4 separate regions of the Homo sapiens genome follow, and all the other regions are reported to be linked to region 2. The links are microRNA targets in miRTarBase. Many come from high-throughput screens and were not tested one by one. Region 2 holds a microRNA gene; each other region holds the end of a gene's coding sequence.
The links. Region 2 holds the annotated microRNA hsa-miR-4793-3p (UCUGCACUGUGAGUUGGCUGGCU, at 1,213-1,235, opposite strand). A microRNA usually pairs through its seed, bases 2 to 8, with sites in the 3' UTR of a target mRNA and lowers its output. Matches are read on the target gene's strand: a 7mer-m8 pairs with bases 2 to 8, a 7mer-A1 pairs with bases 2 to 7 and ends in A, and an 8mer does both.

Region 1 (3,000 bases), not on the chromosome of region 2:
GCTTCAGTGAGCTATGATTGTGACACTGTACTCTAGCCCCGGTAACATAGAGACCCAGTATCTTAAAAAAAAAAAAAAAAAAAAAAAGTAATTGCAAAACATTTAATCAGCTTAAGACCTTGTGGGTCTTTTAAAAGCATGATCACAGACACAAACACAGATCCTACATTTGCCCTATCTGAGCTGCTGGAATCTCTTGGTCCTCCTGAGGAATAGTGGGGGGTTGGGGGGAGAGTGAATCTTAAGTCTGGGTGTCCTGACAGCATCCCTTCTGCTATCCACCTCTGCCCCTTGGTCCTCCAAGCGGCCCATGTGAAAAATGGCCAATTCCTTTCCCCTGGTCACCCCTGTTCTCACTTCTGGGGTAAAAAAGAATTAAAAAAAAAATCCTTGTCAGTTTTCAGCCAAAGTCTCTGGAATTTATTGCAAATTACCTTTAGAAAGTTAAATGTGGCCTGGCGAGGTGGCTCACGCCTGTAATCCCAGCACTTTGGGAGGCTGACGTGGGCAGATCACCTGAGTTCAGGAGTTCAAGACCAGCCTGGCCAACATAGTGAAACCCCATCTCTACCAAAAATACAAAAATTAGCCGGGCATGGTGGCAATCGCCTGTAATCCCAGCTACTCGGGAGGCTGAGGCAGGAGAACTGCTTGAACCCAGGAGGCAGAGGTTGCAGTGAGCCCAGATCACGCCACTGCACTCCAGTCCGGGCAACAAGAGTAAAATTCCATCTCAAAAAAAAAAAAAAAAAAGAAAAAGAAAAGAAAGTTAAATGCATCTGTTTTTACAGCCTAACTTACCCAAGAATGGGACAGAGCTCTCTCTGGACCACAGGCAGGATTTGGCAGCACTGCTCAGGCAGATGTCATCCTGGGACCAAGGACCAAGCATTTTCTTACTTGTTGATCAAAAGAATTAAAGGCCACTTAACATTCTGTCATTTACACTTGTGTGGCTACTCAAGAATATAGATTTTATTTTGCAGTGAAATTATAGAAAAAAATAAAGAATATTGATTTTAGACTGAGCATAGTAGCTTATGCCTGTAGTCCCAGTACTTTGGGAGGCCTAGGTGGGAGGACCACTTGAGGCCAGGAGTTTGAGACCAGCCTGGGCAACATAGCCCAACTCTGTCTCTACAAAAAATTAGTTGAGTGCCGTGATGCACACCTTTAGTCCCAGCTACTTGGGAGGGTGAGGTGGGAGGAGAGCTTGAGCCCAGGAGTTCAAGGCTGTGGTTTGCTGATTGCGCCCCTGCACTCCAGCCTGGGCGACACCACAAGATCCTATCTCTAAAGAAAAATAAAAATAAATAAATAAATTAACTGCCTTAAAAACATTAGCCAGGTGCGGTGGCACACACCTGTAGTTCCAGCTACTCAGGAGGCTGAAGTAGGAGGATAGTTTGAGCCCGAGATTTGGAGGCTGCAGTGAGCCACAATCACACCATTGCACTCCAGCCTGGGTGACAGAGGGAGACCCTGTCTCAAAAAAGAAAAAAGTGGGGGGGGGGGAAGACTATCAACTTCAGAAGTAGATGAAATATATATTTAGTAATCTAAGTATCTACATAAAGATACTATGTTTGACTCATTGGCAGGTATGAGTTCATGGCCCAGCGTTCTTTATTAAAATAACAGCTTTCATAGTACACGCTGTGGTTACGTCATTTTTCTTTCAGAGTATTATTACCTTTTAAAAGCTTCTTAAATCCCAAGTTAAAGCTGTTACATTCTAACCCAGTCTCAGAGCTGATTGGCTCAAAACCTCTGTGGGCCAGTAATGCCACATTACCCCGGAGGGGCGGGCAGCGCGGGGGTCAGGGAGCTGCCAAAGCCAGCCCTCCTACTGGCCAGCACGCACATTCCAGGGGATAAATAGGATTAAGTGCTCTAAAGAGGATTCCCAGCCCTCCTGCAAAGGAGGTTCAAACACTCTGGTCTAGTTCTGAACAAAAATAAGCCCCAGAGAAGGAGAAAGTGCCTGTTTAAACACCAGGTGGCCCTACCCCAAGCCTCTGCTCTTCCTCTTACCCCCATCTCCGGGTGGCTGGGGAGAGCCCTTTTCCGCAGGCAAGTGTGCGCACTGGATCCAAGTCCGTGAGAGTAGGTTCAACCCACCCTCTTTGGTTTCCTAAATAGGGTCAGCCCCTGAGCGGCAGTGGGAGGTCATGACCTCAAATCTCTTCTAGCTGCTCTTGGGGACGAATGGATAAACTCTGCTAGGAAGGGCTGTAGCGCGTCTTAGAGAAAGCCCTTTGTATGAACTGCTCTCGGGACACTCTCCTAAATTTAGGCCCTGAAAGATTAAGGTAATAAAAGCTGCTGACATTTGATTGCAATTTTTCTTGTCCGGGAAACAGACCAACCACATAGAACCAAACAGCGTCCCTCTCCAAACTTCACTCCACCCCACCCACCTTTTCAAACTGTCCCACGCAGAAAGGGGGCGACGCTGGCAGGGGTGGGCACCGAACTCGGACTCCCTGTAAAGACGCCCCAACAGCACATGTGTTAACTCATTAACTCGGAGGGATCTAGGGTCACTGTGACGGTTTTCTATTAATAGGGAATAAAGCTCCTGCAGACGTTAGCGGTAATGCCCTGACGGCCGGCGCAAAGTTAACTCCTCCCGGGCCAGCAAGAGGAAACCGTGTCCTGCCCAGGCAGATGTGCACTGGAAACGCGCGTGTACCCATGCACACACGGGGTTTTAGGACCACTCCCCTTGCACAGGCCAGACCCCACACCCATCCCGAGTCTTTTCTCAGGGGAGGGAGCGGCAGCAGCAGGCGGCCGTCGGGTGTCCGTCAGCTCAGCTTCGCCACGCACACGGCTAGGGCCACAGCCGCCAGCAGCACGGCGCCGAAAAGGATGGCGGCCAGGGCCTTCCTGGGGTCGCAACCCCCCCCGCGCTCCTGCAAGGACACGACCGAGGAGGGGCCGGCGCTGACCGTGGACAGGAGCTCGGCGCCCGCCGCCTGCCGGGCTTGCACGGTC
Region 2 (3,107 bases):
TCCTCAGGCGCTGCCTTCCTGCCCAGACAGGCTGGCATCCAGGCAGCCCGAGCATCTGCATTTAGGACACAGAAGAGCAGCAGCACCGCCAGGCCCTGTGGGTCAGCGAGGGTCAAAGCAGAGTCGGCAGGGATCAATCAGGGACCAGTATAAGTCACTGTGGGTCAGCAATGGGGTCAGTCACTGTAGGCTAGTGTGGGTCAGTGAGGAGCCCATGCGGGACTCAGTAAGGGAGTTGGGGAAGGTCAGCAGGGGAGAGGATGGAGCAGCAGGAGTGGCTGGAGTCTGTAAGGTCGGTGTGGATCAGCAAGGGGTCGGGAGCCTTGGTGTTGGTGAAGGTCGATCCAAGATCAGCACTCAGTCTGGGATCAGTGCCTAAGTTAGAGTCAGCTCCAGGCCTGGGGGCAGCAGCTAGGGCCAGTGTCTGGTCTGGGGTAGTACCCAGCCTGGCAAAGTTATCCAGTAAGAGTCAGCTCCAGGCCTAGGGTCAACGTCTGCCTAGGGATGGCCCCAGCCTACTGAAGGCCCACCTGGTTCTGGGGCAAGGGAGGGGCACCAGAGTCACCTGGAGGCCGCAGAGTCCAGCATGGAGGTAGTGGAAGGCTAGGATGCTGTGGTTGACTGCCAGGAGCCCAAAGAGCCAGGAGGCACTGACCAGCAGAAGCAGCAGGAAGGAGCTGCGAAGGGTCCTGCTGTGGGGACATGGGAAGACACAGGAGGACATGCAAGGCTCATGTAGGACTCATGCAGGGAACACGGGAGGACACACAGGGGCCACACACGAAACGTGAAAAAAAGGAACTCACACGGGAACATGGAGGTCTCTGGAGGACACTGGGGGAGATGGGAGGTCCCACAAAGAAACAGGAGAGCAGTCAAAGAGCCATGAGGACACGTGGGGAAAACACAGGGGTATGGGAGCCACAAGGGAGGGCACGGAAGACAGGTGGGAACACACAGGGCAGGGGGCAAAGTGAGCCACCCAGGCCATGGGAGACTCTGGGGGGACCCAGAGGACAAGGAGAGACAGCAGGGCAGAAGCACATGTGGGGCTACAGTATAGCGAGGGCGCCAGAGAGGGACCACAGGTCAGGGCAGGTGTGACTTCATTCCTTCATCTAGAACTTGGAGCCCAACCTGCACCAGGGAAGATCTGGGGGCCCCAGACCCCACCCAGGAGGGACCTGCCATCCTGAGAAGCCCCCTTCCTCCAGCCAGCCAACTCACAGTGCAGAGGTCTTCTTGGCCTCCCTCTGCCCTGTGGAGCAGGATGTGCGGGCAGCGAGGAGAAACATGGTCCCGTTCATCTGGACCCACGGCCAGACATGTGGGGCCGGGCAGGGCAGAGAGAGAGAGAGAGAGAGAGGCAATGAGAGACAGAGAGAGACTAAGATTCACGGAGAGAGGCAGAACCAGTGAGAAATTCACACATATACACACACACCAAAGGAGCTTAGCATCACAGAAAAAGAAATTGGGAACCAGAGAGGGACTGAGAGAGAGAAGCAGAGACAGAGGCAGGGACAGGCAACTGAATCTCTGACCCCGCGCCCCCATCTCCATGCCAGTTGAATGGGGGTGGCTACTGACCAGAGGACAGAAAAAATGAAGGCCGAGCCCAGGAAGCCTGCAGAATGCCACCTGACCGCCCTCAGCTGAGTCCACTGCACCTCCTCCCCCAATGAGGGAGGGAAGTACAGAGGGGGCACCAAGTCCAGGGCACTCACCACTATGACCAGGACAACAGGGCCAGCAAAGCTCCAGATGAGGGGCTCGTGGACTGAGATCCAGCAGAAGTCAGGGTTCCCATAGCCCTCAGGGTCCAGGCCCACAGCAAGGCCTTGGGAAGAGAAAGGGTAGGACTGAGGGTGTGTGTTCCAGAGCTGCTGACCAGCCCATGTATGGGAGAAAGCATGGGTGAGGGCAGAGCAGCAACCCCATGAATAGATGGCTTGGGGTTTGAGGTTGGGGGTCATGAGCAGGAGTGGGGACAGGGTCAGGGGTCAGGCCATGTGATGGTTGGAGGTTGGGGGTCACAGCCCTCACCCAGCAGCACAGCAGGGACGCCCCAGCCCAGGGCATGGTAGAAGCGCATGGCGCCGCGGTCCACGTTGCGTGGCTCAACCTGCATGCGGTAGAGGTGCAGCCCCTGCACGAAGAGCCACGCGAAGGTGCTGAGGAAGAAGTAGTGCAGGAGGATGGCGACTGCAGTGCACACCAGCTGAGGGCAGGGGGGCGTGTCAGGACCTCTCCTGCCTCACCCACCTCTGACCCCTACCCCAGGCATCTGCTTCCCACCTCTCACCCCTAAACCACAATATCTTACCCCAGCATCCTGCTGAAAACCCTGGCCCCAACCTGAGCATCCCTGACCTCTGACCCTGAGTTTTGGCCCCAGGCCTCCTGGGCCAGTAGGGTCATCAGGACACAAGTTCCCTGGCCCTGATCCTGCACCTGATTGTGGGTCCTGTGAATCCCCAGCAGGAAGAGGAGCTCTGCCACCCCCAGGGCGGCTGCCACATTGGCATGGATCCCACGCACATTGGACTTGAGGCTGCGCAGGCTCAGCAGGATGGCTGCAGTCAGCACCAGCGCAGCCACAGACACAGCCACGACCACGTGGGTGAACACAGCCAGCAGCTCCAGGTCGCCCTCCAGCCTCTACAGAGACAGGGATGGTTGATGGGTTGTTGGGCAGAATCCCCGTGTCCCTTTGACCCCCCACTTCCTTGGGACACTGAACACAGCCCCACCTCACGGGGAGAGGCATCCATGAGGACCCCAAAGGTCCCTGTCCGGCTGCAGCGACACCGTGCGTGGGACCCATTCCTGTGCACCAGCTCGCAGTCCCGTGCTGTCCACACACCATGCTGCTCCGCCCTGCAGCCACAGGGCAGTTAGACACAACTGTGACCCAGTGTCAGGCAGGGGTTTGTGAGAGATCATGGGAAGGGCTGAGGGTGCCTGGAGTTGGGGTACAGCATTCCTCATGGTCCGGGTTGCACAACAGCACTAGTGGGGGCCCCAGGGGAAGGCTGGGACTATTAGTTGGCCTCCCAAGGGCTAACGGGACCAAGGGTTTCCAGAATGGGGGTCCTCACAGGCCA
Region 3 (3,107 bases), not on the chromosome of region 2:
GTGGATCACCTGAGGTCAGGAGTTCCAGACCAGCCTGACCAACATGGAGAAACCCCGTCTCTACTAAAAATACAAAAACAATTAGCCGGGCATGGTGGCACATGCCTGTAATCCCAGCTACCGAGAGGCTGCAGCAGGAGAATCGCTTGAACCCGGGAGGCGGAGGTTTCGGTGAACCAAGATCGCATCATTGCACTCCAGCCTGGGTAACAAGAGTGAAACTCTGTCTCAAAAAATAAAAAGAGAAAGAAAGAAAATAAGAAATTGTGGAGGGCGAGGGATGAAACAGGACAAGGTGAGTCTGCTAATGCGTCTGTGCAGCCCAAAGTGCCAGGTACACCAAGTTCCTCCTGTCATTAAAAAATAGCAACAGAGCATGCCTGTTACAAAAACAACCAGCCAAGCAGCTCAGATCTTTGTGGGCATGGGCAGAGCCTGTCAGAGGGTGGGTTTCTCTGAAGGTTCTTGGGGGTCAAGCATGTTCTTTCATGGGAGGCCCCCCAGCAGTATCTATGGACTTTCACTTAACCCCATTTTTTGGTCTAGCCTCTCACCCACCCCTCCCCAGTACGCCTAAGACCCGAAGCTTCTCTGGTTCCATTTATCCTTCAAATAATCCTCACGTCACACCACCCCACCCAGAGGTGTAGCTGCTGGCTGCATGATGTGGGTGGGGTGTGGGTGGGATGTGGGGGAGCGGCACCCCACTGATCCTTACATAGACTTTCCATCGGTCCCCATTGTTGGCCGAAGCCTCACCTCACCCTCCATGGTCCTGGTGGAGTTCCTGAGCCCCTCCGGGGCTCTGGCAGGTAATTCCACTTGCCTTTTGGCCCCACCTTTTGGGAACACATAATTTCAGCTCTTAATTCTCCATCCACTTTCCATCTTTGAAAATGTCAGCCAGGCGGCCGGGCACGGTGGCTCACACCTGTAATCCCAGCACTTTGGGAGGCCAAGGCGGGCAGATCACGAGGTCAGTAGATCAAGACCATCCTGGCCGGCCAGGAGTGGTGGCTCACACCTGTAATCCCAGCACTTTGGGAGGCCGAGGCAGGTGGATCACAAGGTCAGGAGATCGAGACCATCCTGGCTAACACGGTGAAACCTCGTCTCTACTAAAAATACAAAAAATTAGCTTGGCGTGGTGGCAGGCACCTGTAGTCCCAGCTACTTGAGAGGCTGAGGCAGGAGAATGGCGTGAACCCAGAAGGCGGAGCTTGCAGTGAGCCGAGATCGTGCCACTGCACTCCAGCCTGGCAACAGAACAAGAGTCTGTCTCAAATAAAATAAAATAAAATAAAATAAAATAAAATAATAAAAAATTGTCAGCCAGGCACGGTAGCTCACGCCTGTAATCCTAGCACTTTGGGAGACGGAGGTGGAGGCAGGTGCCAGGAATTCAAGTTCAGCCTGGCCAACATGGTGAAACCCTGTCTATACTAAAAATACAAAAAAATTAGCTGGGCATGGCCAGGCGCAATGGCTCACACCTGTAATTCCAGCACTTCGGGAGGCCAAGGCGGGCGGATCACAAGGTCACGAGTTTGAGACCTGCCTGGCCAACATGGTGAAACCCCCGTCTCTACTAAAAATACAAAAATTAGCCAGGAATGGTGGCGGGCACCTGTAATCCCAGCTACTCGGGAGGCTGAGGCAGGAGAATCGCTTGAACCCAGGAGGCGGAGGTTGCAGTGAGCCGAGATCACGCCATTGCACTCCTGCCTGAGCAACAAGAGCAAAACTCCGTCTCAAAAAAGAAAAAAAAAAAAATCAGCCGGGCATAGTGGCGGGTGTCTGTAATCCCAGCAACTCGGGAGGCCGAATCACTTGAACCCGGGAGGTGGAGGTTACAGTGAACCGAGATCGTGCCACTGCACTCCAGCCCCGGCAACAGAGAGAAAAAAGAAAATGTGGTCAGGCTCTGTGTTCTACTGTCTTCCCTCCTGTTTTCTTTCCCTTTGTATTATTTTTGATTTTCTTTACTATCATCTTAGAGAGATCCTAAGAGAAAACTGAGACGAACACATGTGTTTAGGCCTGCCATGTGGAAATGGCGGTCTCTATTCATTCTATTTACACGGAAACATTTAACAAGCAGCTCTTGAGGAGGCCAGAGAGGTGCAGGCCTAGCCCTGTCAGCACCACCCTCCACAGATGCCCAAACAGCCCCAGCGCATTTCTTTACCTTGATTTCTTTCCTACTCATTTCCTCCAGCTGTGCAAGGGTAAAGGCAAAAGCACAAAGACCTGGGTTGGACCCTGCCTCCATTTGCCGCACCATGATCTTACCACATGGATTCTTAGAGCGTAACTGCTGCCCCATGGACCAGGTTAGCTAAGAGAGGTTCCATGAAACTGCTGTTGCAGAAATGCTTCTAACTATAAAATGCCAAACCTGGGAAAGAATGTTTGGATTCTCATAGCCTGGATCAGTAGGACACTGCCTTGGCGTGCTGGTGCCCCACCCCCAACTCACCCAGGCCAGGGGAGGTAGAGCCCCAGCCCCTGAGACCCTCAGGCATCCTGCAGTTTCCAGGCCCTACAGAGGGTCCCAGAAACAGCCCCAGCAACAAAGTGAGGGGCCAGAAACTATGCAAAGATGGAGGGAGGCTGAGAAACAAGTCAGTGCTTTATTAACCTGGCAAAGGGGCAGCTAGGCGGCCTGAGCAGCCCCTGCCAGACCCTCCTCTGCACTCCTCTGCCTAAGTCACGGCCCAAGCCCTGGACACGTAGGAGTGTAGGCGGGCAGGGGCAAGGCCAAGGAAGGGGTGGAGTTGTCCAATGCAGATGTTAAGGTCCAACCCGACTTCCTTACTGAGTCTAGGTGTGGGGGCCCCCCTCTCACCCCTTCCTCCCTGCACAGCTCTGGCTCTTCCTGGAGTCAGGAGGCTGTGTGTCCCACATCTGCTGTGGTCTGGAAGGTGATCCCATCCCCAGGCAATGGGGAGGCCAGGAAGGGCCAGAGCCAGACGAGGGCCCAGCGGGGCCCCAGGGCTGCCTGCAGGTTGTGGCAGGGACCCAGGTCATAGGAGTGCTGGCCCCGAGCCCACTCCCATGTGGTCTGGCCCCGCAGCAGCAGCATCCCATGGAAGAGCAGCCCAGCC
Region 4 (3,107 bases), not on the chromosome of region 2:
AAAGAGCACAGATGTATTAGCTGGGTGTGGTGGCACACGCCTGTAGTCCCTGCTGCTGGGGAAGCTGAGGTGGGGAGATCGCTTGAGCCCAGGAGGTCACGGCTGCCATTGATTGTGCCATTGCACTCCAGCCTGGGTGACAGAGTGAGACCCTGTCTAAAAAAGAGGAAAGACAAAAAAAGCACAGATGTATTGTGTATGAGAATATGGCTTCACTGCAGCAGCCCAAGCACTGAATATTATTGATTTTTAAATCTTTGTTATTTAGCTAAATGAAAAATGCTCTCTTTTAGTTTGCTGTTCATAGTTTGCTGCTCATAGCTTCTTAGTTCAGAATTTAATCAAATGATTTTGTTTTCTTTATAGATTGTGCCAAGGACTTGAATGGATGATGTCACGACTTAAGATTAGATGATCTCTACTGACCTCTTCTCATAGATTTTGTATAAATGAAGTGCTGGACTTTACCTGAAAGCTGCAAAAATTAATGGTTTAGATATATTTATAATAAACTGATTTAAACTTTTTCTATAAGAAGAAAAATTAAGACCACTTATTTGAAAACAAAGATGAAGTCTCACCTTCCAGTTTGCTTTCTCATTAGTTTTTTCCAAAGTAAGTTATTGAAGCTGTGATTGACATTTTTCTCATAATGAATCCTCTCAGGACATTGTGTAGCCTATGGTAAGTACAAAGGGAGAGGAAGACATTTTGAATTTTAAGAGCTTTATTATCAGTTTAACCCTCCCTAGTTGAATGTTATTTTCTTCTTGTTCCATTAAGTCAGAATACAAATCAGCACAGATATTCGAATGTTTCCAATATTTTAAAATGTAATGTTACTTATGAAAAGTATTTTGCTTAAGGTTGTGTGTGTATTGTGTATATACCTCAAGTTCAAGTTAATGGCATTGATTTATGTTCCAGACAAAAATAACACAAATAATAATATCCTTCGTTATAACCACAATGAGATAAGTATTGGCATTAGTGTTCAGTGCCATTTTATACTTTCTCTCTGTGTTCTCTGTATTGTACTAACCAACCTCCCAAATCGCTGAGCTGCTTGTTTAAAAAAAAAAAAAAGGAAAAGGAAAAAGCATGACATTGTGTATCGATTTTTTGTTGTTGACCAAAATCACACACATGGAAACATGTAATTCAACAGAGTGGGAAAGCTAGCAGATTCTTGGCTTAGTATTACTAATAGGCAGGATTGTACAATGAGCAACTATCAGATTATTCCTTTCAGTGGTTCTTATGGCATCTAAATTACTGAATAAATTATTAATCCATTAATCAGTGAATCAAATTATGATTACAATTATCAAATGAATGCTCAGCATTAATTGAAAACTGTTTTGTGAAACATGTCTACCCAGAAAAGTAGCATTCTATAAATACTATTAAACAACTTAGCTATATTATTTTTAAGTATTAAATTATATGTCAAGCAGTTAAAGTGAATTTCAGAGTAAAAGTAAGGCATGTTTCTGAGCAACATTGATAATTTCTTAATTTGCAAATTTCTTCTTATTTTGGTACTTGGAATATAGTGTGAGATTTTTTATTTCTAAATTTTGTTGTATCTTCTATTACATAAATGCATTGACAATTATAAAATGCAAGTGTTTTTTGAATGATTTTAAGAATTTGGCTTAAAAATTGATTGATACAACGTATTATTTGTACTAAGAAGTAACTTGACCCAAAACACCTTTTATGTTTGCTTAGGGTATATTTTTTCAGTGTCTGAAAGTCAAAGGTATTCCTGTCACAACTGTAAACAAACTTATCCTAAATGTGTTAAAACATATTCTTGGGTACTCTATTTATGTATCTTTCATGCCTTGAAAATCTGAAGGTTAATCCAAACTCACATGTTTTAGCATATTTGAGAAAAAAAAACTACCTTCAATATCAGCCTTTTAAATTTCATGAAGATTTTGGTGAGGAATAATAGTATATAGTTTAAGTATTGACAAAACTTTGAAAGTTTCTTTCTTTAAAATGGGAAATACTCAATATCTAAATCCAGGTCAGGCATGGGATATCAGTATTTAACATTGGATGTTTTATGTTTTATATTTATAATGTTCAAAATGCAAGCATAACATTTAATATTTGTCCACATGGTTTTACAAAAGTAAATCTTAAATTACTAAGCTTTTCCCATATGTTCTCGTACTTTCTCAAATCCCTATAAAGAATTACTTGTTATCTATTAAAAATCTCCTTTACCCAAATCTGTATTATGGTTTCGCCAGACAAATATTATGTGATGTAGCCCAGAAAATCCACACCTTTTGTCCTTTTTATGTTTTAATTTGAATAATCATGTGCTTAGTCCCTTGGATTACTGCCACATCAGTTTAACACGATATCAGCACATTCCCTTGTCATCATCAAGGTGTTGGCTCAGATTTATTCTTAATTGGATGTTTAAAGCATGTACTACCTTGTTACAGTTGGTTTAGTGTAGTGGATTATTGACATGACATCATGAGAAGATGTGTAATTTTATACCACATTTATAAAACATGATTTTGTTTTCTACCCTTCAAGGTAAACATTAAAAATAAGGTGGTACTTGTGTACTTGTACATAAAACCAAAATTATAGTTGGGAAAAAAATAAATTTATATATGAAAATGTCAAAATCATTTTAAAAGTATTATTTTCAAATAAAATGGAGAAGCTGGTGAAAAGTCATATTGGCAATTTTTATGTAGTTTAAGTGGAATTAAGCAGAGGGAGATGCTTTTGGGTTTTTAATATGCCACTTCTGAGTGAAAACATCTCGTGGAGTCATTGTGTTCAGCTCTGAGAAGAACAAAGATTCATAGTTCTGTACATGTGGCTGGATTTAAATATCCTGTTTTTGATACTAATTTTGAAAGTCATGTAACTTCTTTTGATATCTGGGCAAAAGTAACCATATGCTATAAGCATTTGAATATGTTTAATTTTATCATAATAGCATCTGTAAAAGTACATCTTACACATTATATAGAGGGTTCTTGTTTGAAATTTTCAGTTCTCTTTATCTTCCCAGTACCTCTTGGTCCTCATAATGGGCAAAGGATACAACGAAGGCAGGTTGTATA

Region 1: the mRNA of RGS9BP is a reported target of hsa-miR-4793-3p. The part of its 3' UTR that is shown has no 7-base or 8-base seed match.
Region 3: miRTarBase lists ZDHHC24 as a target of hsa-miR-4793-3p. Seed matches in the 3' UTR shown: 8mer at 2,691-2,698, 7mer-m8 at 1,875-1,881 and 7mer-m8 at 1,245-1,251.
Region 4: the mRNA of ARL5A is a reported target of hsa-miR-4793-3p. The part of its 3' UTR that is shown has no 7-base or 8-base seed match.

Annotation. Positions count from the first base shown.
Region 1 is chr19:32,676,782-32,679,781 of GRCh38, reverse strand. RGS9BP (regulator of G protein signaling 9 binding protein) reads right to left here. Exons shown (of 1, transcript NM_207391.3): 1 at 1,482-3,000. The coding sequence ends at 2,811. Among named protein-coding and RNA genes, the nearest start is that of RGS9BP, 2.4 kb to the right of the region's middle.
Region 2 is chr3:48,642,989-48,646,095 of GRCh38, forward strand. It overlaps MIR4793 (microRNA 4793), which reads right to left and starts at 1,292; the gene lies at 1,206-1,292. CELSR3 (cadherin EGF LAG seven-pass G-type receptor 3) reads right to left here. Exons shown (of 35, transcript NM_001407.3): 22 at 3,102-3,107; 23 at 2,754-2,880; 24 at 2,455-2,661; 25 at 2,047-2,221; 26 at 1,728-1,840; 27 at 1,228-1,307; 28 at 566-689; 29 at 1-95.
Region 3 is chr11:66,536,645-66,539,751 of GRCh38, forward strand. It overlaps ZDHHC24 (zDHHC palmitoyltransferase 24), which reads right to left. Exons shown (of 3, transcript NM_207340.3): 3 at 1-3,107. The coding sequence ends at 2,885. Among named protein-coding and RNA genes, the nearest start is that of ZDHHC24, 7.8 kb to the right of the region's middle. RefSeq lists an enhancer at 2,956-3,107.
Region 4 is chr2:151,800,584-151,803,690 of GRCh38, reverse strand. ARL5A (ARF like GTPase 5A) reads left to right here. Exons shown (of 6, transcript NM_012097.4): 6 at 367-3,107. The coding sequence ends at 415. Among named protein-coding and RNA genes, the nearest start is that of ARL5A, 26 kb to the left of the region's middle.